Linked DNA regions of Homo sapiens. The protein of the gene in region 2 purifies or fractionates together with the protein of the main gene of each other region. This does not show direct contact. Each region holds a gene or a part of one and is shown on either strand. Other genes may lie near its edges. The genes, in order: ATP1A2 and ARHGEF16.

Evidence for each region.
Region 1: the proteins of ARHGEF16 (region 2) and ATP1A2 purify together in Homo sapiens (affinity purification with mass spectrometry; 2 studies listed by BioGRID and IntAct, with this or other methods). This does not show direct contact.

Annotation. Positions count from the first base shown.
Region 1 is NC_000001.11:160,106,596-160,122,636, forward strand, and holds the start of ATP1A2 (sodium/potassium-transporting ATPase subunit alpha-2 precursor), read left to right. Parts: upstream 1-9,163; 5' UTR 9,164-9,266; coding exon 9,267-9,278; intron 9,279-14,310; coding exon 14,311-14,415; intron 14,416-14,596; coding exon 14,597-14,656; intron 14,657-16,041. UniProt on the Homo sapiens protein: This is the catalytic component of the active enzyme, which catalyzes the hydrolysis of ATP coupled with the exchange of sodium and potassium ions across the plasma membrane.
Region 2 is NC_000001.11:3,457,665-3,467,724, reverse strand, and holds part of ARHGEF16 (rho guanine nucleotide exchange factor 16), read right to left. Parts: exon of another isoform or gene 8,226-10,060; coding exon of another isoform or gene 8,194-8,225; intron 4,660-8,193; coding exon of another isoform or gene 4,641-4,659; coding exon 4,053-4,640; intron 1,578-4,052; coding exon 1,532-1,577; intron 924-1,531; exon of another isoform or gene 811-923; intron 558-810; coding exon 388-557; exon of another isoform or gene 375-387; intron 1-374. UniProt on the Homo sapiens protein: Guanyl-nucleotide exchange factor of the RHOG GTPase stimulating the exchange of RHOG-associated GDP for GTP. May play a role in chemotactic cell migration by mediating the activation of RAC1 by EPHA2.

The DNA.
Region 1 (16,041 bases), about 160 Mb from region 2:
CCTTCATCTGAAGCCCTGCCTGGAGCACCTCAACCTTCATATGCCCCCATGCAAACTTGCGGCTTATTTCCCAATCTCCTTTCTCCCCTACCCTTATTTTAGTTAACTTTGCACCAACGTCCTCACCACCCCCACCATCTCCAACGGCTTCCTTCCTTACTCTGATGTCCAATCAGCTGCCAAATACTGAAATTCTACCTCCCAAACATCTTTTTCATCCATCCCTGTCTCCTCTCTGTCTTGCTCCAGACCTTCACCACCTATAGCCCCCATCAGTCTCTCCCTTCCAGCCCAACATCCCGTCCACGTACAGGCACACACCCTGCCATCAAATGAGCCTTCCTAGAACGCAATTTCAATGAGATTACTCCCCTGCTGAAAAACTTTAAGTGGCTCCATATTGTTTATAGCGATATTTCTCAAACTTGCTTGGTGGTAGGAATACAGGTTCCCACTCTCCACGCCCACCCTCATGAATCAGAATCTTGAAGAAATGTACCTGTTCTTTTATAGTTTTAACAAGCACCCAGGTGATTCTTATCATCAGAGCCTTTTTAGGAAACACTAGCAATTAGAGTGGCAATTACTCTGGCATTCAAGGCCCTCCATGAAATGGCTCCAACATCTATTTCCAGTAGTACCGCCCATATTCCTTCCTTGTGCAGAGTGCTTCTGCTGTCTGTGCCTGTGCTCACATTGTTCCTTCTCCTTTATCTCTCTGAGTCAGATCCTACCTATCTGTCCAGGCCCAACTAGAATGCCACCTCTTCCATGAAGACCTTTTTGATTCTTCCAACTGAGAACCATCTCCCCCTTCTCTGGGCTCCCACCACCCTCTAAATGCTATGGTGAGCAACCAGCAGCCAGCAATACCTGGCTCAACACAGATGCACAAGAGTTGGCACTTTTTCTTCCCCTTTATCTTCTGGAGCACTCCTCACTGTCACCACTGCATCCAGACAGTTCTGGTCATTTACTCCTGGGGACAAGAACCCAAAGGAGAAGCTTCAGTGGGTCCTTACAGCATGGAAGTTAAATGTGCAGGCTCTGGAAACAAACTAACCAGGTTTGAACCGCAGCCCCCCTACTTGGGTAAGCTGAGGATCTATGTGCCTCAGTTTTCCCATCTGTAAAATAGAGTTGTGAGGACTAAGTTAAGTACTACATGCTGTCTTCATTAGTTCTGGAGACTGGGAAGTCCAAGATCCAGGTGCTGGCAGATCCAGTATCTGGTGAGGGGTCCCTTCCTGGTTTGCAGATAGCCACCTTCTTGCTGTGTACCCCACATGATGGCCAGCAGAGAGAAGAAGAAAGCTCTCTCATGCCTCCTCTTAAAAGAGCACTAATCCCACCCTCATGACCTAATTATCTCCCAAGTGCCCCACCTCCTAATACCATCACATCAGAGGTTCAATCTGTAAATTCTGGGGAGACACAAACATGCAATCTACAATAAGTGCTCACTAACCGTTAGCTATGATGAGCTACAGATCTTAGGGACAATATAGTTCAGTGGTTCTCAAATCTGCCTGTTGATTCATCTGGGGAGTTAAAAAAAATACCGATGCGGCTGGGCGCAGTGGCTCACACCTGTAAGCCCGGCACTTTGGGAGGCCAAAGTGCGTGGATCACGAGGTCAGGAGTTCGAGACCAGCCTGGCCAACGTGGTGAAACCCCGTCTTTACTAAAAATACAAAAATTAGCCAGGTGTGGTGGTGCATGCCTGTTATCCCAGCTACTCAGGAGGCTGAGGCAGGAGAATCGCCTGAACCTGGGAGGTGGAAGTTGCAGTGAGCCGAGATTGTGCCATTGCACTGCAGCCTGGGCGACAGAGTGAGACTCAGTCTCGAAAAACAAAACAAAACACTGATGCCTAAGCCCCACCTTAGATCAATTAAAAACATGGTACCTGAAGATGAGGCCTGGGCATGGGATGTTAACATGAAGCTAAGGGTGAGAATCCTTAGCTAGTCCAACCCTCCACCCACTACTTTATTGACGAGAGGTAAAGGACTTATTCAAGTGCGCACAGCTGGTTAACTGTAGAGCAAGTCCCACACTGAAAGCCTCTGCCCTCCCTCTAGCCTAATCCAGAGTGATTTCCAATACGATTTCCAATACGCCATTGCGCAGCCTTTGCTCCCGCGTCATTGGGTTGGGAGAATCATCTAGGCAGGAGGCAGAGCCAGGCCCACTCAACCTCACTCAGCAAAAGTAGAGGTAAAGAAGTGGGGAAAGTTTGAGGAAATGGAAGTGGGGAGTCCCTAAGGACTATGAGCTTGGGAGGACAAGGTCAAGAATGGATGGGGGGATTTTGTGACTAAATGGCATGAGATTCTGAGAGAAAAGACAATGAGGGTGGGGATCTTGTTTGCCTTGATTGTAACTGTCTTTCTAGTACCTTGCACAGAATATAGCATAAAGTACGTGCTCAACAAATGTTTGTTGAATGTCTAAATGATGCAATAACATCAAAAAGCACATGTTCTGTTTATTAAGTCACCCAGAGGGCACTCACATTCCTCAAGGGGGCAGTGGTGAGAACATCCAGAGGGGAGCACAAAAGTAAAAGAATCTTGGACTTTCAGAGACACTGAGGCACAGAGGAGGCCAAGCTCCCTGAAATTCCGAGGAGAGGCTGCTATGTGGGAGGGAGGCAGTGGCCCTGTGTGCCAGATGTTTGCAGGGCATCCTGAACTCTCTGAGCATACAGAATGCCACAGGGGACAGGCAGATAAACAGAGCTGTATCCTGGGCCAAGTGGAGGGGGCCTGGTAAGGGAAGAGGGAGGTGGGAAGAAGGAGGCTGGGGGCCAAGCCAGCTGCCTCTTGATAGGGGGAGCGGGGAGGCGGGGTGCTCTGGGCCAGTGGTTGGTTCAGATCTCTGGCCAAAGCAAACCTGCCTCAGGGGGCTGGGGGACCTCTCCCTCCCTGCCCGGATGGAATCAAAGGCTAACAGGAACCCTGGAGGGTCCAGCTGTGACCCTTGCTCCTCACACTCAGCAGGGCCCATTAACCCCGTCCTCCCCATATCCTCAACACACTTTTCCCAGCCCAAAGAATCTTTGCAAACAGACTCCCCTGGTATTTGCTGATCAGATACCAGCCAAGAGATGTCAGGTTTTCCCAGTCTCACCACCAGCCCTGCCTTCCTCCCCCAAAGATACCCAGACCCTGTCCCACCTCTCACAGCGGTGCTCTGTAAGAACCCAGGGTAGCCTTTGCTCAAACCGGAGCCCTTCCTTTTTTCCATGCCAAGAGTTAAAGGGATTCGATTCATTTCTATGAGTCATAATAATAAACAAAATAGGAGCACCTGCCTCCATGCTCACAAACAAGACAGGACAACCTACCCTCTTGGATCTCCTTCTGAACCCAGGTCTCCAACTGATGGTTCTCACACAGGTACAACCTGCAGGTAACTCCTGCTGTTTACCTGAGCTGAGCTGTGCGCTGAGGCAGAAATAGCCTGGAATTTGGGGATCATCAGAACTGGAGAGGGACCTCAGAGATTTTCTTTTTTTTTTCTTTTTTTGAGACAGAGTCTCGCTCTGTCACCCAGGCTGGAGTGCAGTGGCGCAACCTCAGCTCACTGCAACCTGCACCTCCCAGGATCAAGCCATTCTCCTGCCTCAGCCTCCTGAGTAGCTGGGACTACAGGTGTCTGCCACCACGCCCAGCTAATTTTGTGTGCATGTGTATTTTTAGTAGAGATGGAGTTTCACGCATTAGCCAGGATGGTCTCAATCTCCTGACCTCGTGCCTCCCAAAGTGCTGGAATTACTCACAGATTTTCTCATCCCGTTCCTTGTCATTCAGATGAAGATGCCAAGGTCAGAGTAGAGAAGCCTCTTGTCCAACATCACACAGGTGGTTAGTGGCTTCAGCAGGACTAGCCTCAGCTGACTTGACTTTCAGGCAAGAGTCCATTGCATTGGACCACGGTGGGGACTGTGAGAGGACAGGAGGGAAAGCAGAGGCACAGAATAGCCCAGGCCTTCATGCTCCTGGGAAGGGTTGACATGGGTTCCCTGGGCTACACCATGGGTCCTTTCCTTTTTCTCCCTTGGGACTTCCACGTGAAGAAGGCACAGGCAGAACACAACATGGAGCTATCTGAATCCAGAGAGAAGTAAGAACGAAAGGAGGTGGGAATGCAGCACAGGCAGAGGCTGGGGAAAATGCTTCTGGGTGCTTTTACATCCTATTTTCTAAATTCTATACAGTGTGGTTTTAACAATAAAGAGGATAATAAAAATACTCTGGGGAGAGATTAAAATGACAGAACCAGCTGGGTGTGGTGGCGCATGCCAATGGATGCACAACTCTGGAGGCTGAGGCAGGATGACGGCTTGAGCCCAGGAGGTCGAGGCTGCAGTTGATCATGCCGCTGTACTCCAGCCTGGGTGACAGAGTGAGAATCTGTCCTTTTTTTTTAAGGGAGAGAGAAGAAGAATTGTTTTTTTTTGTCTGTTTATTGTTTTTTGTTTGTTGTTGTTGTTGTTGTTGTTGTTTTTGAGACAGGGTCTCACTTCGATTGCCCAGGCTGGAGTACAGTGGTGCAATCTTGGCTCACTGCAGCCTCTCAACCTCCCTGGGCTCAGGTGATTCTCCCACTTCAGCCTTATGAGTAGCTAAGACTACAGGTGCATGCCACCACGCTCAGCTAATTTTTTCGTATTTTTATTAGAGACAGGTTTCACCATGTTGCCCAGGCTGGTCTTGAACTCATGGACTCAGGTGATCTACCCACCTCAGCCTCCCAAAGTGCTGGGAAAACAGGCATGAGCCACCGCGCCCAGCCAGCAGAGATTTTTAGAATCTACTTTGAGTAGACTGAAAAGAAAGACCATGTTGAAGGAATGGTTTAACAGATAAAGAAAAAAAATAAGATAAAAATAAAAGAAAGACCAAAAAGAAAACGGAGGAGCAGATGTTAAAGGAGAGATGGGGAGAAAATTCAACACCATCCTTGTAGTCCAGTGAGGAAACTGACACAGCAGCAGGACTTGGACAGCCACTCTGGGGCTCTGAGCCCAACCTTTTTATTTATTTATTTATTTATTTATTTATTTATTTATTTATTTATTTTTGAGACGGAGTCTCGCTCTGTCGCCAGGCTGGAGTGCACTGGCACGATCTCGGCTCACTACAACCTCCGACTCCCTGGTTCAAGCGATTCTTCTGCCTCAGCCCCCCGAGTAGCTGGGATTACAGGCATGTGCCACCACTCCCAGCTAATTTTTATATTTTTAGTAGAGACGGGGTTTCACCATGTTGGCCAGGATGGTCTCAAACTCCTGACTTCATGATCCGCCCACCTCGGCCTCCTAAAGTGCTGGGATTACAGGCATAAGCCACCCCACCTGGCTGATCCCAACCTTTTAACAGGTCACTATAACCTGAGGGAGTGGGAGGACAGAGGGCTGGAGAGGCAGGGAGAGTGAGAAGTCATCTTTCTTGGACACTTGTCATGGCCAGTCCAGGCCTTCCCGGCTCCCCTCATCTCATCCCCCAAGGTGGGCTCCCTTTGGAAGCAGAAAAACTCCACCCACACTCCCAGAAGACCTCAGAAGCCTGATAGCAGTGACAAGACCACAGGCCCTAAAGAAAAAAAGAAAGGAGAGTTAGAGGGAATGGAAGAAGGAGAAGAAGGAGAGATGCCCAGAGGGGGGTTGGCAGCCGAGAGGAGGACCAGAGGAGCAGGGCTGGAGAGCTGGGCCCAAATCAGGACTGGGGGAGAGAAGTGGGGTGCCGGGGCGGGAGGAGGGACGATGGGGGTGATAGAGCCTCCCAGCTCTTCCTTCCCTCCCACTCTCCCTCCTCCTCTCTCTCTTTCATGATCTTGAAACAACCTTCAAGTCTGGGCTGGAGGCCCCAGGAGGCCAGTCACTTAGGAAACAAAACTGTTTCTTGGAGACCTTGAAAGCCCATCTGCAGCTGAGCAGCGTCCCCACCCCCTCCCTGTGCACACACACATTCTCCCATGGACTCTCACGTACACCCACACCCGGCTTCACATGAGCTCCCCAATGGCCCACATGCACGCACACACGGACTCCACACTTGATCTTAGCCAAAAGGCCGAGAAGCGATGCGCACTCACGGACTCACACGCACCTCTGTACTCATGCTTGCATACAGACAACCGATTCATAGCAGATTGGCCACACATCCGAATGAGTGTTGTCCTCTCCCCTGAGGAGCTCCTCCTTTGGAATGTGGTTTGGTACCACCACTCCGTCTCATACCTCACACAGGACCCAACGCTCAGGTCCTCCCAGTCATTAACTAGCACACATCTGTACACAGGCACATGCACACTCCTGTCTCTCTCCAACTGTCTTGGTCTCTCTCTCTCTCTCTCTCTCTCTCTGTCACACACACACACACACACACACACACACACACACACACACACTTCTTACCAACCAAATATTTGATTCAGGACCACTCCATCCCCACTTTGCCCTTGGTGGATCCCCCTCCTGATCTGTGACTTTCTCAGCCCACTCCCCAGCCCAGGCATCTTGGCCTTCCATCCTCCTGCTTTCAAGTCTTTCTTTCTCTCTCCTTTGCTCCTCTTACTCCAAGGGCCTTGATCCAAACTGGTACTGCTGACTGTGTCTGAAGAAACAGTAGCCCAACCCAGGCACTCCAGATCAAACGATCAGGTGTCTACACCTGTTAATATCCTGGAGGCTGAGGTTCATGGTGGACAAGAAGGAGGTAGACCACTCCAGAGCCTCAGCTCTCACTGGGCAAGGAGGGTGGTCAGTGATGCACGGTGGAAGTATAGGCCCTGGGTGTCCTGCCCACTCTTTGATTTCTCTGAGCCCTAAATATGTGAGCAGCAGCGCCCCTCGGGCTGTGCTCTCGCCCAAATGCAGGGCATGGCAGGGAGCCCCAGCAGGCTGTAGGGGCAGAGGAAGGGCACATCCTTTCCGGTATTGAGTTTGGCCACAGGGACCAGAGCCAGGGCCTTTGGAAGGACTGGGCAGTACTGGGAGGTGCCAGCAGGGGTGAGGGGTGGGATGAAAACTGTTAGAGTGCTTGAGGTTTGCACACCTTCAGATTCGGGGACTGACGTTTTCTCTCCTATCTCAGGTTGTGTTCTGGAGAGGGCTGGGCAGAAGATTACCCAGGAATTCCAACCCAGGAACCTACGGAACAGGCGCTTCCTAAACCCCAATTTATCATGTTGTTCCCACAGCCCCCAGGCAAGCCTGCCCCAATGTTGATCTCCCTAGCTGCCTCGGGGCCACTCTGGAGTGACTTTGCTTTAGACAGTCTCTCCTGGTGTCTAACCACAGGCTTTCCCGCTACTCCCCTCTCACTCTCTCCTTAACACACAGGGGCTGAACTGGTATCTGTTCCCTTCATTGTTTCCTCCCTCTGCCCATTCTCTCCCAAGACCAAATCTGAGCTCGGAGAGGGGGGCCATGAGAAGGCCCTGTTGGCCCCATCCTACCCACCCTTTCTGACTGTAACCCAGAGAGGGAAGGAGCGTGGAAGTGAGATGTGACCTACCAGGTCCCTGTAATGGAAAATCTCAACTGCAGGCCCGGAGGGGGCCAGTTATTTAGGGAATTCAGATGTTAGCCTTGTGCCCTGAGAGTGGATTTGCTAGAGGAGAGGCTGATAATCCCTCTGCAGGGAGTTCCCTCTGGGGCCAGAGATGGACCCAGCCCAGCCAGCAGGCACCTTAGGCCTCTGGCCAAAGCCCCCCTTCCCTCCCTCCCTTCCTCTCTGCTTTCTTTGCACTCAGGACACTTAGACCTGCCCCACTCCGCTGGCTTCCCCTCACTCCATCTCTGTGCCCAGAGAAACAGGGGTACTCCAGGGGAATCCTGTCCTCTGACTGTTCCCAGTAGAAGGCGGGAGCAGAATTTTTTCTTTTCTCTCTGCCCCTTCTGGGTTCCCCTTCCTCTCTGTGCCCCTCATCCTTTGGATTACTCATCAAATGAGCAGCAACAACACCCCTAGACCAGCTGGTCCTGTCCTGGGTCATCTCGTTGTCCCCAGTTTCTAGCTGGTATAAGGTTAAAGATACCCTTTCCAGCCCCAGGCAAAGCCTTAGGCATTTCTGGGATTGCTCCTGACTCTGATGGGCATCCTCACTCCTCAGACATTTCCAATCTCCCCCACTTCACTGCAGAGAGGCCTGTTCTCCAGCCTCAGTCCTGCATGCTGCAGCTTTGCTTCCCCTTCCCCACTGGAAGAAGGAAACAGTCGCTCTCCTTTCCCGTTCACATGTCTGATATTTGCTATGATATTGACCTTCACACACATCTTAGAGGTTCTGTATTTTCCTCTCTTTTGACTTCTCCCTATCACTACTCTACTCAGGCATAGATTCAGTCTAGAGCTCTTCAACAGCAATGAAACGGTAAACGAGGGGTAAACAAAACCCAGAGATGTCATCAGGTGCCTGCTAGGAGTCCCACCCGTTCCCCTCTAGCCCTGGCCTGCCCCTCCCTACCAGAGTCTTGATTCTCCTTCAAAACTTTGGAGAGGTTACATCTGGCAGGGTTTGGGGACACCCTCTTGCCTCCATCTCCAAACTTCCCGCTGCCTCCCGAGCCACCTTTGACTCCTCCTGGGCCCCCCTTCCAGGTGCCTCAAGTGCAGAGGTCAGCCTTCGGTTCAAATTCTATTTCTGGGCTTCAGTGTCCCTGCAACCTCTATAATAGAAGGAACAGAGTGGTCTATGTTTCTTTCTTTCTCTGGGAGATTGGATGTAGACTCGGGAGACCTGAGTTCTGGCTCTGTCTTATCAATTCAAATTGTTTAATCTCTCTGAGCCTCAGTTTACCCACTTGGAAAAGAAGAGTTAGGCCACATGGTCTCTGTCATCCTGGGATTCTGAGTCAACTGCTCCCCTTCAGCCAGATCCAAGGGGGCATATCCCCCCAACCTGGGACCCAGGCCCCCTTCCCTTGCAGCCTCTCTCAGTTGTGAGTGCCACAGGCCAGAGGGGGTTGAGAGGAGCCAAGGGGGGGCATGCCGTGGGACAAACGGGCTGTCTAGGGCCAGTGGCTAAAGGGGCGGGAGGGGAGGAGTCCTCAGGGATCCTGTTTCAACAAACGTTTCTTTCGGAGGAGGGGAAGGCGGGGGAGAGGGGGAGAAGGACCTATTTAAAGCTACCCTGTTGCTTTGGCTTTCTCTGTCTGCCAGGGTCTCCGACTGTCCCAGACGGGCTGGTGTGGGCTTGGGATCCTCCTGGTGACCTCTCCCGCTAAGGTCCCTCAGCCACTCTGCCCCAAGATGGGCCGTGGGGTGAGTATCCCTAAAGAGCAGGGGTCGCAGTCTAGAGGGTGAGGGAGGCTGCTGAGGAAGGATGAAGTGGGAATGGGATGTGGAAGGAGCGGGAGAGAGGAGCTGAGTGGGATACTTGGAACTTGAAACTAACAGTCTCCAAACTACCAATGTGTGTACAGATCCCACGGCGGTCACATACCCTAGTGCTCTCCTCTCCTCTGCACGCCCCAGCCCCCTGCCCACAGTTAGACCCACAGCCCACCACACATGCCCCCTCCATCTCTCCCTCCACCCCACTCCCACATCTCTAGTCCTTCCCTGCAGCAGTCCCTCCTCTCACTGCATCTCCCGGCCTCCCAGCTGAAAGGATGTTTGGCACTGTGAGTCCTCCTGTCTTTGCCACCTCCTGAAAATATCCATTCCTCTGGGAGTCCTAGCCTGAGAGGCTGGGGGTCCATTTTGAGGTTAGAGAGGGGCAGTAGAGCATCCGGCTCCCAGAGTCACCAAGTAGTTCCGGACACCAGCTCCAGGGGCCCTGAGTGCCAAGGACAGCTGGGCGGGGTGTGGGGAGGAAGAATGATGACCCAGCCCCCACCCCAGCACCCCTCCGGATGTCCCGAGCAGCATTGTCCGTGGGTTCCAAGCCATGGGCTTTGAGGACTTTCCCAGAGGCTGGTGACAGGTGACCCCCCCCCCAGTCCACCCGTCCATGGCATTCTGCAGCAATGGCTACACCAAGAGGAAGATTAACAACAATGGGGCGGGCAGGGAGAGGGCTTTGAATTCTTGGAAATGAAATTCCCATATGGAGAAGAGTGGCCCAATCCTTTTACATGCTGTGCCTGGCTGCTTTCCTTTTGTGGAATACTGGCAAAAGAGGACACAGAGGGAAAGGGCATGCTGCGGAACAGGAGGGTATGAGGAAGACTGTGCCTAGGGGGAGCCGTGGGTGTTTCTGGGCCCAGGAGGAGTCAGGCAAGGACATGTTATTGCACCTAGTTGAGCAGCTGGGAAATCCTGAGCCTGGACACCAGGGTTCCTGAGCTAGGGTTGGAGCCATAAATAGAATTGGAGTGCATGCATGTATCTGTGTGTCTGTGTCTGTGTGTGTGTGAGTGTGTGTCCTTGACCACGTGTTCTCCATAGGCGGGGAGTCCTGCAGTTACTCATGGATGAGTACCTGTGTTTGTGTCTCAGCAGGCAAATTTGTAAATGTACAAGCCTTCAAGCCTGCACAAGCATAAATGTCACTGTGTGGGGGTGCTTGAGAGTCTGTGAGCCTGCCCTTAGGAGCTGTGAGGTATGGGCTTCACGGAGGAAGAGGTCATAGCTGCAGGAAGATATACTGTCTTGGGACCTTCAGCTGCATCTTGACATCTCTGGCTCCCCATGGAAAGGGCATCCCTAGCTGAGATGCAGGACCTCTGAGAAGAGGCAGGGGTTAAAGGATCAGATAAGCCCTCCATTTCCCCCATCCAAGTGAAGAGAGAAGGAGGGGAGGTAGCCCCCTACCCTGCTCCATCTTAGAGCAAGGTAGACCCAGCTCAGGAGGTCTTGCTTGGGAAGTGATGAGACCTTGACTTTTCCAGTCTGTCTTTTTCCCCTAGCACCCCCAAACTCCCCTTAATCACCATCCTAAGTTGCTGTGGGTGATGCAATAGCAAGATGAGGAGCAGATCTGGGCTGTTTAAACTAAGAGGCTGGGTGAGGTGGGGGTATTTAGGGCCTGGAGCTTAGAGTTCAACCTACCAACGACCCCTGAAGAGGGAAGGCATCTGACACCCACAACCTGTTCTAGGGATGATTTTTCCTCCAATCCCTTCTCCCCTGCATCTCCACTGCAGAGGCAGGCTTCACTGTCCCCCCATTACCCAGTGGCTGTGAAGGGCAGCGTGGGAGTTGGGGGAAGGGACGACACTGGTGGGAGGGAGCCCAGCCTGCTCCAGCTACCACGGAGAGGCTGAGATGGGGGGAGCGTTGGCGGATTCCCAGCTGCCCCCACTCTGTCCCAGCCTCTGGCTTTCTCAAAAAGGACTCTCTGTTCTCCTTCAGCATTCAAGACCCAGAGAGGGGGACTTGTGGTTGGGGGAGGGAGGAGTGGAGGGAGGTTGGGGGGGTCCTTGCTTCCTCTCTTTCTTTCTTGCCTGGGCAGCCGCTGGCCCCAAATCTCTGCAGGCTCCTGGCTGCAGAGCCTGAGATCTTTGCCAGGACAGGAGGAGGGGGAAGGGGCAGTGTGTCTCAAGCTCTAAGCCTGCTGGAGAGCAGGGCGGGAGCTTGGGAAAAGGAGGCACTGCGTGGAGCTGCTTAGCTCAGCCACAATCCAGCATGCCAAAGTGCATGGACCAGCAAGTTTTTAAAAAGCATGCATTTTATTCCAATTTTTATGAAATTTATTTCACATCTGAATATACAGAAATTCCTCTGCACCCTGCTCTTCTGCCCACAGACCCAGCCCTGCTCCTCTGTGTATGCCTGGGCCCCCTTCTGTCCCTGAAGTTCCTGAGGGTCACACTGAAGCTCAGCCAGCCTGATCTCTTGCCTCTGTTCCCTTGATTGCATTTCTTCCTTTTCTCAGCTCTGTCCCACCACAGACAGTTAGTGAATGTAAAGCATTTCAATCCACTCAATTAAATGAATCCTCTTAGGTCACCTGAGAAAGGCAGAGGCAGAACCACTCACAAGCCTTTCCCCACCCCTTCCATTGGGCTGCTCGGTCTCCCCAAGAAGATCTGCCTTTAGGAGGCCAAAATTATACCAGATTCATAGATGCTTCAGGTGGAGACAAACCCACGATTTTACTGGTCACCTTTTCTGAGAAGAGCACTTCTGAGCAACACAGCCTCCAAAAGCTCATATCTTTTTAAATCATTGGTATCTTGGGAACAACAGTGTTGACTTCTCCTTGCATCCCCCACCCCTACCCTTGCTTCTGATTGTACTGGTCAGACTTCTACCTCTCAAGATGCTGAATTGGCGACCTCTTATGAACAAGGCAGCTGCCATACTTCTGGGATTGCTCCTGACTCTGATAAGTAAAAAAGGCATTACCCTGGAGCACAAAAGTCTTAGGGCAGTGAAGCTATTCCATATGATACCACAATGGCGGATACACGTCAGTATACATTTGCCCAAACCCATAGAATGTACACCAAGAGTGAACTCAAACTTAAACTATGGGCTTTGGACGATAAAGATGTATCAATGCAGGTTCATGATTGCAGCAAATGTAACACTCTGATGCAGGGTGTTGATAGTGGGTGAGGCTGTGCATGTGTGGGGGCAGGAGATATATGAGAACTTTCTCTACTTCCCACTCAATTTTGCTGTGAACCAGAAAATTGCTCCAAAAAAAGTATATTTTTTAAAATGCAAACAAAACCCCCAAAACTGCATTATCCTGCAAAAAAAAAAAAAAAAAAAAAAAAAAAGCAAACACCTTGGCTGTGGACCCTACCCAGGTATCCACTCTTTATGGGAAACAAAAGTTAACATCATAGTGTGGGAAAACTAATTCCTGAAAGCCTAGTGCAGACTTTGCAGAATCCAGTGGAGAAATAGGCACCAGGTGGAAACTGAGCAGCCCCTCTATGACAAGGACTCTATTTCCTGAGGGAAGTGGGAGGAGAGAAGACTGGGGCAGAAGAGGAAGTAAGAAGGTACCTTTTTGGGAACTTTTCATGGCTACCCAGGCCTTCCTCAGCCTCTATCCTATTCTATCACCCCAAGAGGGCCTCCTCTTAGAAGGAAAGATTTCCCACCCTGTCCCCAAGAAGTTCCCTGTGAGACCCTGGAAGGCTGGTAGTGGTGAGCCCACAGGCCCTGGAGTGGAAGGGAAATCAGGAGCCTCATAAGACTACAATTAAAATGTCCATCTGCTCAGGCGCAGTGGCTCACACCTATAATCCCAGCATTCTGGGAGGCCAAGGTGGGAGGATCACTTGAGCCCAGGCAATATAGTGAGACCTTATATCTAAAAAAAAAAAAAAAAAAGAAAGAAAGAAAGAAAATTGTTTTAAATTAGCTGAGCGTGGTGGTGCATGCTTGTGGCCCCAGCTACTTGAGAGGCTGAGGTGGGAGTATTGCTTGAGCCCTAGAAGCGGAGGGTGCAGTGAGCTGAAATTGCACACTGCATTCCATCCTGGGTGACAGAGTGAGACCCTGTCTCAAGAAAAAAAAAAAGGCCATCTGATTCACCAGATGACCCAGGAATGTCTAGACTTAAAAACTATATAAAATGTAGTTTTAGATTTACTCTCAGATACAATTTCTTATGTTTTGGGACAAATGGGGCTCAGTTCCCATGTTACCCAATTGTGCTTTGGGGGTCCAGTCCTGTGAGTTGCCTCCCGTCTAGTAACGGGCAGGCCTGCCCAGCAGGATGGAGAGGGCTCCCAGCACACCCCATGTCTCCACTTCCTGGACATGCCCTGACTCTCCAGCTACTGCCTCCTCTCAGTCCATCAGGCCTGCTCTTTCCATCCCTACCATTCCACCACCAGACCTGGCTCTCCTCTGGACACGTTCCTGCCTAATCCCCTGGCTCCCCAAAGACTCTTGCTCCCCCAAGTTCCTGAGTATTTCTACCCCTCTCTAAGTAAAATTGCCATGGTGTTGGGCTAAGACATTCCTACAGAGTGATTCTACTCCCTCAACAACCCCCCACAAAACCCTGTCCACTCCCTTCCAGAATTTTCCCAAATAGTGTAGGATACAGGTTTTCAAAATTTTTGTTTTGTTTTGTATTTAGCAGCAGGGTCCTTTCAACAAACAAAATCTTAGCAGAAGCCCAAGCATTAAACCACTCAAGTGGTGCTTTTCAGTCCTGAGCCCCTCACCCTTCTCTGAAACTCACATGGGAGCCCCTGGTTCTGCCAATAGTCTACAAACTGAGGGCCTAGGGTCCCTCACCCTCCATCCCCCCTATCTCCCCCAAGGCAGCCGCTGCTTTTGAACACACACCCCCACTGCCTGGGCTCCCTGGCTGAGTGGTGGGAATGGAGGCCCCAGCCCCTCTCTTCCCTGACTCTCTGGCTCTCCCTTCCTCCCTCAGGCTGGCCGTGAGTACTCACCTGCCGCCACCACGGCAGAGAATGGGGGCGGCAAGAAGAAACAGAAGGAGAAGGAACTGGATGAGCTGAAGAAGGAGGTGGCAATGGTGAGGGAACTGCTGGGCCATGGAGGAGGGGCCCCATGCTGGGAGAGCTGTCCCTGCAGCCCATTGCACTCAGAGAAACTCCGTGTCCCCCATGCTGCTCAACTCACCCCTGTGCCCTGCAGTACCCTCATATGCATCTTAGATACCTCCTCCCCAAAGTAACTCACCCTCCCTTCCCCAGGATGACCACAAGCTGTCCTTGGATGAGCTGGGCCGCAAATACCAAGTGGACCTGTCCAAGGTGAGTGGAGGGGCTTCTAGGGAAGGAACAAAAGAGGCAAGAAAACCATGCAGCATCAAGGTGGCAGGAGCCTTAAAACTGTAATCCAGCCTTCTTTACAGATGAGGAAACTGAGGCCCAGAAACAAGGACTGGCCCAAGGACATGCAGCTAGTTGGTGGCACAGCCAGAACTAGAATTTGGATCCCCTGCATCCTAGCCCAAAGCTCTCTCCCTGTATACCCTAGAAGCCAGGACTCCCTATGACCCAGGCCCCAGAGGGCCTCCAGGCAGGGCCCTTCCCTATACCCCAAGCAACTTCAGTTGCACACAGCCTTCCACAGAGCTGACAGCTGATGCACATGGGCTGACAGCCCATTCCTGTGGTTACAGTGATTTGCTGGGCCCCTGCTACATATGTGACATTGTGATAGATGCGTTACATACATTTCTCTAATCTTTACAACAACCCTTTGAGATAGGTATTGCAGACCTGTTTATTAAACAAAGGAGACTCAGAGAGGGAGAGTAACTTCCCAAGGTCACATGAACAGTAACTGGTACAGTCAATTGCTAAGCCCTTCAATTAAAAATTTGTTTAAAAATCATTAATCAAAAAATGCTGGGTGTGGTGGCTCATGCCTATAATTTTACCACTTTGGGAGGCCAAGGCAGGCAGATCACTTAAGGTCAGCGGTTTGAGAGCAGCCTGGGCAACATGGCAAAACCCCATCTCCACTAAAAATACAAAAATTAGCTTGGCACAGTGATGGGCACCTGTAATCCCACCTACTCGAGAGGCTGAAGCAGGAGAATGGCTTGAACCCAGGAGGCGGAGGTTTCAGTGAGCCGAGATCATACCACTGTACTCCAGACTGGGCGATAGAGTGAGACTCCATCTTGAAACAAGCAAACAAACAGACAAATATTTAGTGGGTGTATATCTCCTTTATGGGCCTTCCCTGACTGCTCTTTCTAAAATTCTATGCCCCTATTCCTTTACCTTACTTTATTTTCCTTAGTAACACTTTTCTATCTGGCACTAATATGTATTTGTTTATTGTGTGTCACCTCTCCAGATCATAAGCTCCTCAAGGGCAGGGACTTTGTTGGTCTTGTCCATCTCTGCATCCGCAGAGTGACAATTGTGCCTGGCACTGGATATACATTTATTAAATGAATGAATGAATGAAAAAAAAAAAAAAAGAAACGGTCCCTGCTTTAAAGGAGCTCAAAGTCTAGTAGCAGAAAAAATGCAATCCTAGGATTCCAATGCAATATGGTGAGTGCAGCTCTAGAATCAAGTATAGAACACCATGGGGAACCAGAAAGAAGCATCTGAACCAGCCTGGGGCTGAGGGAATAGGGCCAGGCAAGGCTTTCTGTGGAAAGTGACAGGTGATTGCC
Region 2 (10,060 bases):
TGTCTTGGCCCTGGCCCCAGCTCCAAGTCCCGGCCCCTCCCATCCCAGCTGTCTCCCTACGCAGATCATTCAGCCCTCTCCTGGGGCGGGGGCCCTGGGAAGGGACTCCTGGCGCCCGCAGCTCCCTGAAGGGTAGTCTGAGCAGGGCTGGCCCTCGCACGCACGACGGCAGGGCCCTGCATGGGCAGGGTGACTCTGAGGGCACAGGAGGGAGACCCCCAGGTCTGCCACCCACAGCCGAGGGGCTTCTGGGAAGGCTGCCCACCCTCCCTGGGAGGACTGGGCTGCTGCTGGGGACCAGCCGCCTGGGCTTGGGGAAGGAACAGCAGGGGGACTGTGGCTTCTCCCTGCCTCTGTGGGGCAGCCTCACCCACCCTCCGGCGCTACCTCTGGGAGCTGGCTCCAGGTGACCTGGGCGGGCCGGTAGCTCTTGACCACAATGGTGGCGTCCACCTTCTGGGTTCCCTCGGGGCTGGAGGACTCATCGAGGATGTCGTCATCAGACTCCTGGCTGGTGTTCAGGCCCCGCTCCTGGATCTCCTGGTAGAGCTGGGGGTCTAGAGAGAGAAGGAGGGTAACCTGTGGCCCTGGGGGATTGCAAAAGGCTGCGCCTCCCTGCAACCCGCCAGCTGAGTCCTCTAGGCCCACAGGCTCTCACGGCTGTGTGGGAGAGGGAGGCTTTGGGAGGGGACTGCCCCAGGCTGGGCACCAGTCCCAAGACCTCTCCTATGCCACAAGTCCCACCTGAAATGGGCTGGTCCCGGCTCAGGGTGCCTCCAAACCCTCACAGCAGCCCCCAACCAGCCTTACCCTGAGACGTGGGGCATCGCTGCTGCCTCCTGGGGACACTTCCCAGGGATTTCCGTAGAGGAGACCTGGGTACCCCCTCCTGGGCCCATGCCTGTCCACAAAGCTTCTGGGGGCTGGAAGGGGCCATTGTGTCTTGGAGCCTCAGGCCTGGAGCTGGGCACTCGAGGCCTTAGCCCTCCCCGGGCTTCATTGCCTCTAATCTCTTTACACCCCCGGGCATTTGGACCCAGGTAGCAGGCACCTCCCTATGTCAACCTCCCTGTGGGATGTTCTCATCTCCCCCGAGCAGGCTGAGTGTGCACCACCGCCACCCATGCTGGAGGCCCCAACACATGGCTCCCCTTCAGCCTCGAAGAGTCCGGGCAGAGCCCGCGGTGTGGGGCCGGTGCCCTCTGATCTGGCCTTGGTCCCCCAACACGGCCACTGTAGGCTGGGCCCAGCACACACATGGGGTGTTCAGGGCAAGACTGGGGGCTCTGTCTGTACCCTGCCCTTCAGAACACACAGAATAGAGTCCAAGGGAACTTTCTAGACCTTTCTAGACTCATCAGGGCTACATGAACAGACCAGCCACTGGGACCTCAGCCTCTGGAAGGACCCTGTCAAGCAGCTTTGGTGACCCCGAGACACCAAACTGAGGCCCACCCGAACCCCAGGGTGCCCCAGTGAGACCAGTTTCAACTGGAGCCCAGCCCGCGGTGCCTCCCGAAGCCACACTCACCGTCCTTGAAGGAACCCTTGTGCCCACGTTTCCTCCCCAGCGTCTTCTGCACAAAAGAGAGACACAGAAACCGCAGCTGTCAGCCGGGGCAGGTGTTGCCCACGGCGATTCTGCCCTGGGACCCCAGAGACCTCTCGGCTCCACATGCGAAGCTGTGCCCAATAGATGTCAGCTCCACAGGGCCTCACGGCCGCCAAGCAGAGGCCAAGAGAGGTGGGAGGAGGGCTCAGAGCAGGCAGGACACGTGACTGAGGGCTGCTTGGAGGAGGAGGAAGGGTTGAACTCATCGTGAGGGGACGCTCAGAAGAGTTTCGAGCAGGCCCGTGGCAGGGCAGGTGAGGTTGGGAGAGGGCTGTGAAGGGACAGTGGGGCAGGACACAGGCCCCTGGGGACTAGGACCTGGTGGGACAGACGAGCAAGGATTGGCCAGTGTCCAGCCCCAAGCATGGGTCTGGGGGCCCCAGCAGGAGGCCGGGATGGCAGAAGTGACGGGAGGGCTGGGCTCCTGGGAAGCCCCCACGCTCAGGTGCCCGACTCGGAGCCCACCCTCCTCGGCTGGGACACCACACTTTCCTGACGCCACAGGTATGCTGGTTCCCGGAAGGAAAGGGGCTGATTTCTCGGAACGAGTTGGGGCCTGTAAACTCCCCTTACTGGTTGGGAGTGTGTGGTGCTCCCAGCTGTACCTGGCCTGGCACCCTCAGCCCCGTGCCCCGCACCCCACCTCAAGGACTCCCCCAGCCCCCCTTCGGCCTCCAGGTCTGGCTGGAGCTGTTGCCTCCCCCACCCCGACTCCGTCCTCTCCTCCTGTCTGCCTCTGCGCTAACCCTCCTTCCTCCGGGACCCTACCCTGACCCGAGGCCATGGGGAGCCCCCTCCTCTGTGCTCCCAGCACCCCCGAGCTGCCCTCAGCCCAGCCCTCGGCATTCTCCCTGCGCTGGAGGCCCTCTGAGAACCAGGCCCATGCCCGTGGGCTCACTTTGGAACCCCAGCACCAAGCATGTGGCAGGTGCCCAGAAGTGTCTGCTGACTGCATGAAATAAACAGTGAATGAATGAACGGAGCCCCATGGGCCTGGGCCTGGTGGGTGTAGAGAGTGCTGGGGCCCTTCCAGCTGCTGGGGTGCAGGGGCCTGCGGCAGAGGTGCTGAGGCATTTCTGAGTCCTGGGCGTCTCAGGTAGGCACAAGAGAGAGCTGTGACCGAGGACAGTGGCTGGTGCTGGGGACATGGGGGACCCCACCTCAGCCACCATCGGCCTGCAGTGGACGCCCATGGGACATTCTGACAGGTGGTCTTGGCGTCTCCTGAGGCTGGCACTGCCACTCCCAGTCTGGGCAGGAGCTGGGCCTGAGGAGGCAGCTGGGACGGCAACCAGTGAAGAAGACGCTCTGGCACACACCTTCCGTGGACACTGCCCAGAGGATGCCCAGAGGGCGGCTGTGATCTTTGCTTCCACATGGGGAAGCCAAGGCTCAGGAAGGTTCAGGAACTCATCTGGGTCACACAGCACCTGCCCCCGCCCTCGTCCTTCACTGAGGCAGCCCATATGCTTGGGGCCTGTTTTCCAACACGTCTGAGCAAGGCGCCCAACAAGAAGGACGCCCCTGGGGCCAGCCCTGCATCTGCTCTGCATTCTTGAGGGTGCTCGGGCTGCCAGGGCCTCCTGATGGGCGGTTCCAGGGCAGCTCGCCTCCCCTACCCCAGCCCTGCCTGAGCCCAGACCCACCAGCTAAAGAGACCAAGCAGGGTGGCCAGAGTCGCAGTCCTGGCTGGGTGGGTGTCCAGGTACCACGCAACTCTCCCTGAACGTGGCTTCCAGCTCCAGGGCTGCCTGAAATGAAGGCCTGGCCCCCAGCCGCAGGGGATGGTGACTCCGAGGATGAGGGACACTGGGCCCAGGAGCCCCAGCTGGACGCTCTGTCCCCTGGGCCCTAGTGACACATGCAGTCAGGCTACACCCTGCCCAGCAAAGGGTCTGCCGCCACCATGCCCCAGACCTAGAGCCACCACCAGCAGGCAGGGAAGCAGGGCTCTGTGTACAGAGGGAATGTGCAGACTTCTCCTAAGCCCCAGGCCACCGCACAGCTGCCCCGCTTCAGTCCCTCCCGCCTGAGTCCCTGTCTGGAGCTGCCGGGGCAGATGGAGCCCAGGCCAGTCACTGCAGCCAGGTCACCCTGAACCCTATCATCCAGGCAGGCCGGCTCCTGTCCAGAGCTCGGAAACAGGGACTGGGCCCTTCCAGGGATCTGCCCTCCACCAAGGCTGGGAGCGGGGACACCAGAGTCTGGGGGCCTCGGTAGAACCCTCGACCTTTCCGAGCCTCTGCTGCCTCATCTGTAAGGTGGGATCTTCACACTCACAGACTGGGCTGAACTGGAATAAACCAGTCGAGAGCCCTCATGCAGCAGGTGCTTACTAACGGCAGCTGCCATGATGCAGAAGATGACGGTGGTGGAGACGGCCAGGCCGCCCCTCTGCCTAGCAGCCCCCTCCCCACGGTCCACACGAGCAGGCCCCTACCTTGTTTTTGGCCGGGCTCCGAGTATGAGGCTGGCTGGGTTCCTCAGCCAGAGCCTGGAGCTTAGGGCTTAGCTGGATGGCATCTCCCTGGCCACCTGGCTTCCCCAGGCCCTTCATGGCCGCCCGGTAGGATTGGTTCCGCAGGTTCCGCCTCAGCATGCCCCCGGGGTCCTTGTCCACGTCCATGTCATCCAGGGAGAAGCTGGGGGCTGGGAGGAGCTTAGGGTCCCGCCGGGCGGCCTCCCTGCTAAGTACAGCCGCCCCGAAGCTCTGGTGGCGGGCTGGGGTCTTTGCCTTGCTGGCCACAGCCAGGCTCTTAGGGATCAGCTGTTGGGTGCCCAGCTTGAGGGCCGCCGGGCTCTCTGTGCTCAGGACGATGGGCCATGGCTCCTCGTGCCCCGGGGGCCGAGGCTGTGGGGGTGCCGGGACCTGGGGCTGGAAGGCGGCATCGTCTCTAACACGCGGGGAGCCACGGACCATTGGGAGCCCGGAGGCTGGGTTCCCCCCGGCATCGAGCCGGAGCTCCGAGTGGAAGCGGTGTCCCAGGAGCTTCTCCTCCAAGGAGCTGTCTGAGTGCCGCTGGGCCATGCTGGGCGGCTGTGGGGTCCTGGGGGAAGGGCAGAAGTGAGGTCTCGTGAGGCTGCTCTCCCCTGCCCCCGCGGGTGTCCACCCCCCTACCCCTTTGCATATGTCTGGCCGGGGCTCCAGTACAGCTCCCAGGACACAGCAGGCAAGGACAGCGACGCAGCCAGGAGCACAGTGGATCAGTGGCACAGCCAGTCCTGACCACTGGGAGCCAGCCATGTCTGAGGCCGGAGGCTGGACACAGGATGGGACTGGGCAGGCGCTGGTTCTCCGAGCTCCAAGGGACCAGGTGGGCACAGCCTATGGGGGTAGGCTGGACCTTGGAGGTTGGGAGGCCACACTGCTTCCTCTGATGGGCAGCACGCACTGAGGACACATTCCTGAGCCTGGAGGCAGGTGGGGCAGCTCAGGTGCATGGCCCTGGAGCCCTGAAGACCTGGCCTGGAATCCTGGCTCACACCTGGCAGCCATGCAGCCTCCTGGAACCACTTCCTCGTGGTGAACGCAAGGGTCATGGCGTTGCACTGGGGGGCTTCCTGAGGCCGGCATCAGCCACAGCGGCAGTGACCACAGCCTCTGCCTCATTGGGGTCTTCCAGGCACCTGAGCCAGGCTCTGCTGGGTTGGGGGGAGGGCAGGTGCATTTGCCCACATGCTCCCGGCCCGAGCCCAGGCCTGTGTGATTCCCCTCTCTTAGCCACACAGTGATATGACTGTCGCGGACTGTCCATGGAACCTTTCCACACACCAGGCAACACGCTTGCATTTTTCCACGTTTCTGAACTGGGCATAAAGCTGACAATTCTGGTCTCAGGAGCCCCACCAGTCACCAGCCCGAGAGTCCAGTATGACACCTGGCCACTGGGCAGGTGTGGTGGTGGCAGGGGTGGCAGCCCACAGTCCCACGTACACCCCCCAGCAGAGAGCGGGAGCTGCCCTGTAGACATCTCTGTAGCCCGATCCCCACACCCCGTGGGCTGCCCCGCCCCCGCCACACTCCTGCCCGCCCCTCCTGGCAGCGCGTGCCCCCGAGCCCATCTCTACCCCACTGTTCCCTTCATGGTCCGGGGCTGGCACCCTGCCCCTGACACTACTGCTTCCCATTTCTCACTTTCCTCCTTCCAGACCCGAGGCAGGGCTGCCCTTCTGCCCCTTGGGAATGGCACAGTCCTGAGACTGGCTTTGGGACATACGTGCCTGCCAGGTAGGAATGTGGAGAGCCAGCTCTCGACCTGCCTCTGCGTCTTCCCTGGCTGCCATGACTATAGGCACGCGTGGCCAGGCAGAGCCTCAATGGCCTGGACCCCGTGTGACCGAGATGTGCAGAGCCCCCAGCCGACACGGCCTCCAGGAGCCGGGCCCAGAGGTCTGTTTCCAGGCACTTTGCGGGGCTGTTGTGGCTACACATCACCTCCTGAGTGACGGCGCATTGCTCGGCCACAGCGGTCAGGCCCACAGTGAGCTTTCACGCCCCGGGCTGCTTGCAACCCCCCTGGGCACTTGCAACCCTCAGGCCACTGAGCAATGGATTCCGAGGGTCTGGTCTCTCAGGCCTCCCAGCTTTCCCCTCTGCTGCTCAGGGGCTCCCCACACGTGTCAGGGAGCAGCCCTGACCCAGGCATGTGGTCAATGAGCAAGTGACGCTGCCTCTCCGTGCCTCAGTTTCAAAATCTGCAAAATGGGCATGATAAGAGCAAGGCCCACCTCCTGAAGGTACGGTGGGAAGTGTAAAGCGTGCAAAGCGTGTAACAGGCCTGGCCGGTGTGAGGCCTGCGTCTGCGCCGCAGTGACCAAGGCCTTGCCGAATCACAGACAAGCTCATGCTCCCTATGCTCAGGGAGCTTCGTAGGTTCAAAAGGTAACGACATGGAGAAAACTCGCTGCTTTCATTCTTTCCCTTTTAAAAAATAAAGATAAAAACAATAACCACCACCACTCAGTATGCCTCCTATACACCCAGAACGTCACACACATGAAAATGACCGGAGTCTCTTGCGGGTGGAAACTGATTTTTCTGATGGGAAAACAAGGCTGAGTCACTCGCCCAAAGTCACTTCCTGCAGGGAGGTTGCCTACAGTCAGCCACACAACTGACCTGGATTAGCACCTTTGGAGTGTCCACAGGGCACCTGGGACACCCCTCTGTCCCTGCTCAGCCCCGGGAGCCACCAAACTCTCCCAGGACACAAATTCTCTGCTAAAACCATCCCAGGAAGGCACGTGCGGCTGAGCCTCCCAGGCCCCAGGGAGGGACGGCCCCCACGCTGGCCGGGAGGGTACATTCCTCAGGACATTCCAAATCACTGGTCAAGGACAGCGGCAGACACAACAGGCCTCCCCCGGGGCTGGTGTCCATGACACTGACCAGAGTGACGCTGGTCTGCACCATCCCAGGATCACCCGCTCACAGTAGGGTGTCTGCGTTTTACCCAGGCCCGGCCGAGAAATCCATTTCTTTTAGGCTTCTGTCTACACGCCAAGCAGAGCACACTCCAGTGGGTGGCCAGCGTAGGCGGTCTACGGCCCTGCGGTCCTTTTATTCTAAATGTGATGACTTTACCTGGGGGGCATTTGATGTGGGTTGACATGCCCACAACATCACTGTGCCCCATCTCCCACCAAACAAATGTCCCCAAGACCCCACAGCCCCCAAATACAGAGACCCCAGCCTGCACTGTCTCAACCTTCTGACTCTCATAGAGGCCTTCCTCCTTCCTAATGGGGCCAGACTGCCCAGGCCTGACTGTCCCTGACCACGTCCTCTGAGACGGTGTCCTGGCCCTGGCTGGCAGCAGCTGTCCCAGGAGAGATCAAAGTCTGCTCCACTGCCAGAAGGCGCCCAAACGGGAACCTGTCAGGCGAGCCAGAGCCTGAGCCATTGCTGGGTGTGACCTCCGCTCCCAGCGAGGCAGCCGCACCCACAGGCCTAACAGAGAGCCTGAGGGGTGTGGGCAGTCCAGAGCCCCCCAGGAGCCGGCTCTCGGGAGCTGTGGCCCTGGCAGGCACCCGTTGCCTTCTGTTTTTCAGTTTTTCTAAAGAACTATGAAGACACAGACACCGTTTCAAAAGTCAACGAGCACCAAAGACTTAGCATGAAAACCCAGCGTCCCCTCTTCCACACTGCCCTGATCCCCGGAGGCCACTGCTCTGGGCTCCTCAGCTTTTCCCAGAAAAAGGCACAGCCTGCTCTCAGTGACCCCCACCTATGGGCATTCCTACCCCCTCCCTGCCTGTTGGACGAGGACTCCATCACGGCTGGCCCCATCACACGATGCCTGTGCCGGCAGAAGGCGCTGAGCCCCAGGGCAGGGCCTTGTCCACGTCCTGTTAATGATTTTCTCTCATTTGACCAGCCTGGTTTCCCCAGTTAATTTTTCCCTGAGTGTTCTGGCGTCTCTGCCATGTGCTTCTTGAGAATATATTCTATATGTCTGGCAGGCCAGCTCAGTGTTTTTCCCAGACACCCCCCGTCCTCCCTCTCCAGAGGGCCCAGTGCTCTGGGCCTCACCCTGGGCGGATCCCAGGACCTCCTCTGCTGCTTCCGGGGCCCCTCTCACCTGCTCCCGGCCCTCATTGCCCTGAAGGACATCCCCAGGCACTGTCCCAGGAAGCCACATGGGAGCCATCTTTTGGACTGCCTGAAAATGTCTTGTTTCTTCCTCTCCCCTGACTGGTGAGGAGATGAGCATTCCCACTGTAGATGGTTTTCTCCCAGAGTCGGGCAGCGCCCTTCCCTTGTTGTCAGAGTTGCTGGGGAAGGGCCCCAATGTCCCGATCTCTTTCTCGGATCACAACCGGTGTGTGGTTCTCCCTGGCCCCACTGAGGGTCTGGCGCACCTGCTGGAGCCTGGGAGCTCTGGCTGTCTTGCTGATGTGCCTCGGTAGGGTCCGTGTTCGTTCACTGAGCCAGCCTGGGAGCTCTGATTGTCGTGCTGATGTGCCCCCGTAGGGTCCATGTTAGTCCACTGAGCCAGGCACTGGGTGGAACCCTGCCAGGCGGTCACTCTTGTCTAGGGCTGCGCAGATTTTCATATTATTTCTTCCACTCTGTTTTCTCTTTTTGGAATACCCACTAATGAGTATTAAGCTCTGGTGTTTTCTCCTAATTCCTTACCTTTCCTCCCCTACTTTGTTCTCTGTGTGAGGTTTTCTCTACTTGGACTTCTTATTGGCCCCTGGTCTTATCATTTTCATTATCCTCAAAGAGCCCTCTGCTCTTCATTCCTGGCATCCTGCTCTTGCTTTATGGGTGTAACATCTTCTATTGTCTTAGAGAGGAAGGATTACATTTTCTTTGGAGCGAGTTTCTTTCTTTCTGTCGCTGGCTGCTGGAGCTGCGCCCCTGCCACATACTTCCTCCTGTCTCCGCCTCTGCTGGCCTCTGTCTCTCAGGCACAGGGCTTTCCTCAAACATCTGCTGCTGGTGGTTGATTGTTTCTGCTTCTATTGAGGAGACAGGCCTTATGATGGCGGGAGGTCCAAGTGCACACACCCTGAGCACAGGTGTCTGACCGGGAGGGCCCAATGGGACCCCCAGCCCCATGCCAGGTCCATATCCTGAAGCCTGTCCTGCAGGCCGGCTGGTTTCTACAGTGGCCTCTTTCCATTTCCTCACTGAGATGCTGGTCGGCTCCTGGTGGAGCCAGTGAAGGGGAGGGGCTGAGAGGGCAGACTCCTTTCAGCAGCTGGCCATGCTGTCCCGGCTGCAGTGCCACAGAGAGAGGTCAGATTTCCTGCAGCAGCCACGTGGGCCAGTGGCAGATCTGCTCCCCAGCAAAGGCAGCCCTGACTTGCTGAGTGGGGGCTTAGCACAGGGCATGCACAGGGCAGAGGGAGCCGCAGGCTGGCTGGCTGGCTGTCCTGTCTCCCCATGTCTGTGAGCCCTTGCGGGGCAGGGACAGTTTCCTGTTCGTGTCCCCACAGTCGGGCTCAGATTCCACACTGAAGAGCAAATGCCTGCCTCGGCACGTGCTCTGCCCTGGTCTCCTAGTACCTTGATTCTGTGTCTTCCCAGAGAGGCCCTGGTGTTCCGTGCCAAGAACCAACTTGCAAGGGGACTTGGCTCAAAATGAGCAGAGGCTGGGCCAGGGCAGCCCCATAGAGGTTCTGGGCCCATCTGTGCCACTTTTTGGGCGACTTCCTGCTGCTTCTCCTCAGGGTGGGCTGGAAAGGACCTCCCATGGCTGAGCCCTGGGGCCCAGAACTCTCTCTTTTCTCTTTACCACTAAATACCCCACCTGGTATCCCCAACACATATAGTTATGGGGCATGAGGGACTTGCCAGGAGGAGGCGTGCAGCAGAGGCGAGCAGGCGGAATCCATGGTCTCTGGGCAGTCTCAGGGGCCCCCGCCTGGCCGGTCCAAGCAGGTGGAATCTGTGGTCGCTGGCCAGTCTCAGGGCCCCCTGCCCAGCCTGTCCGTTCC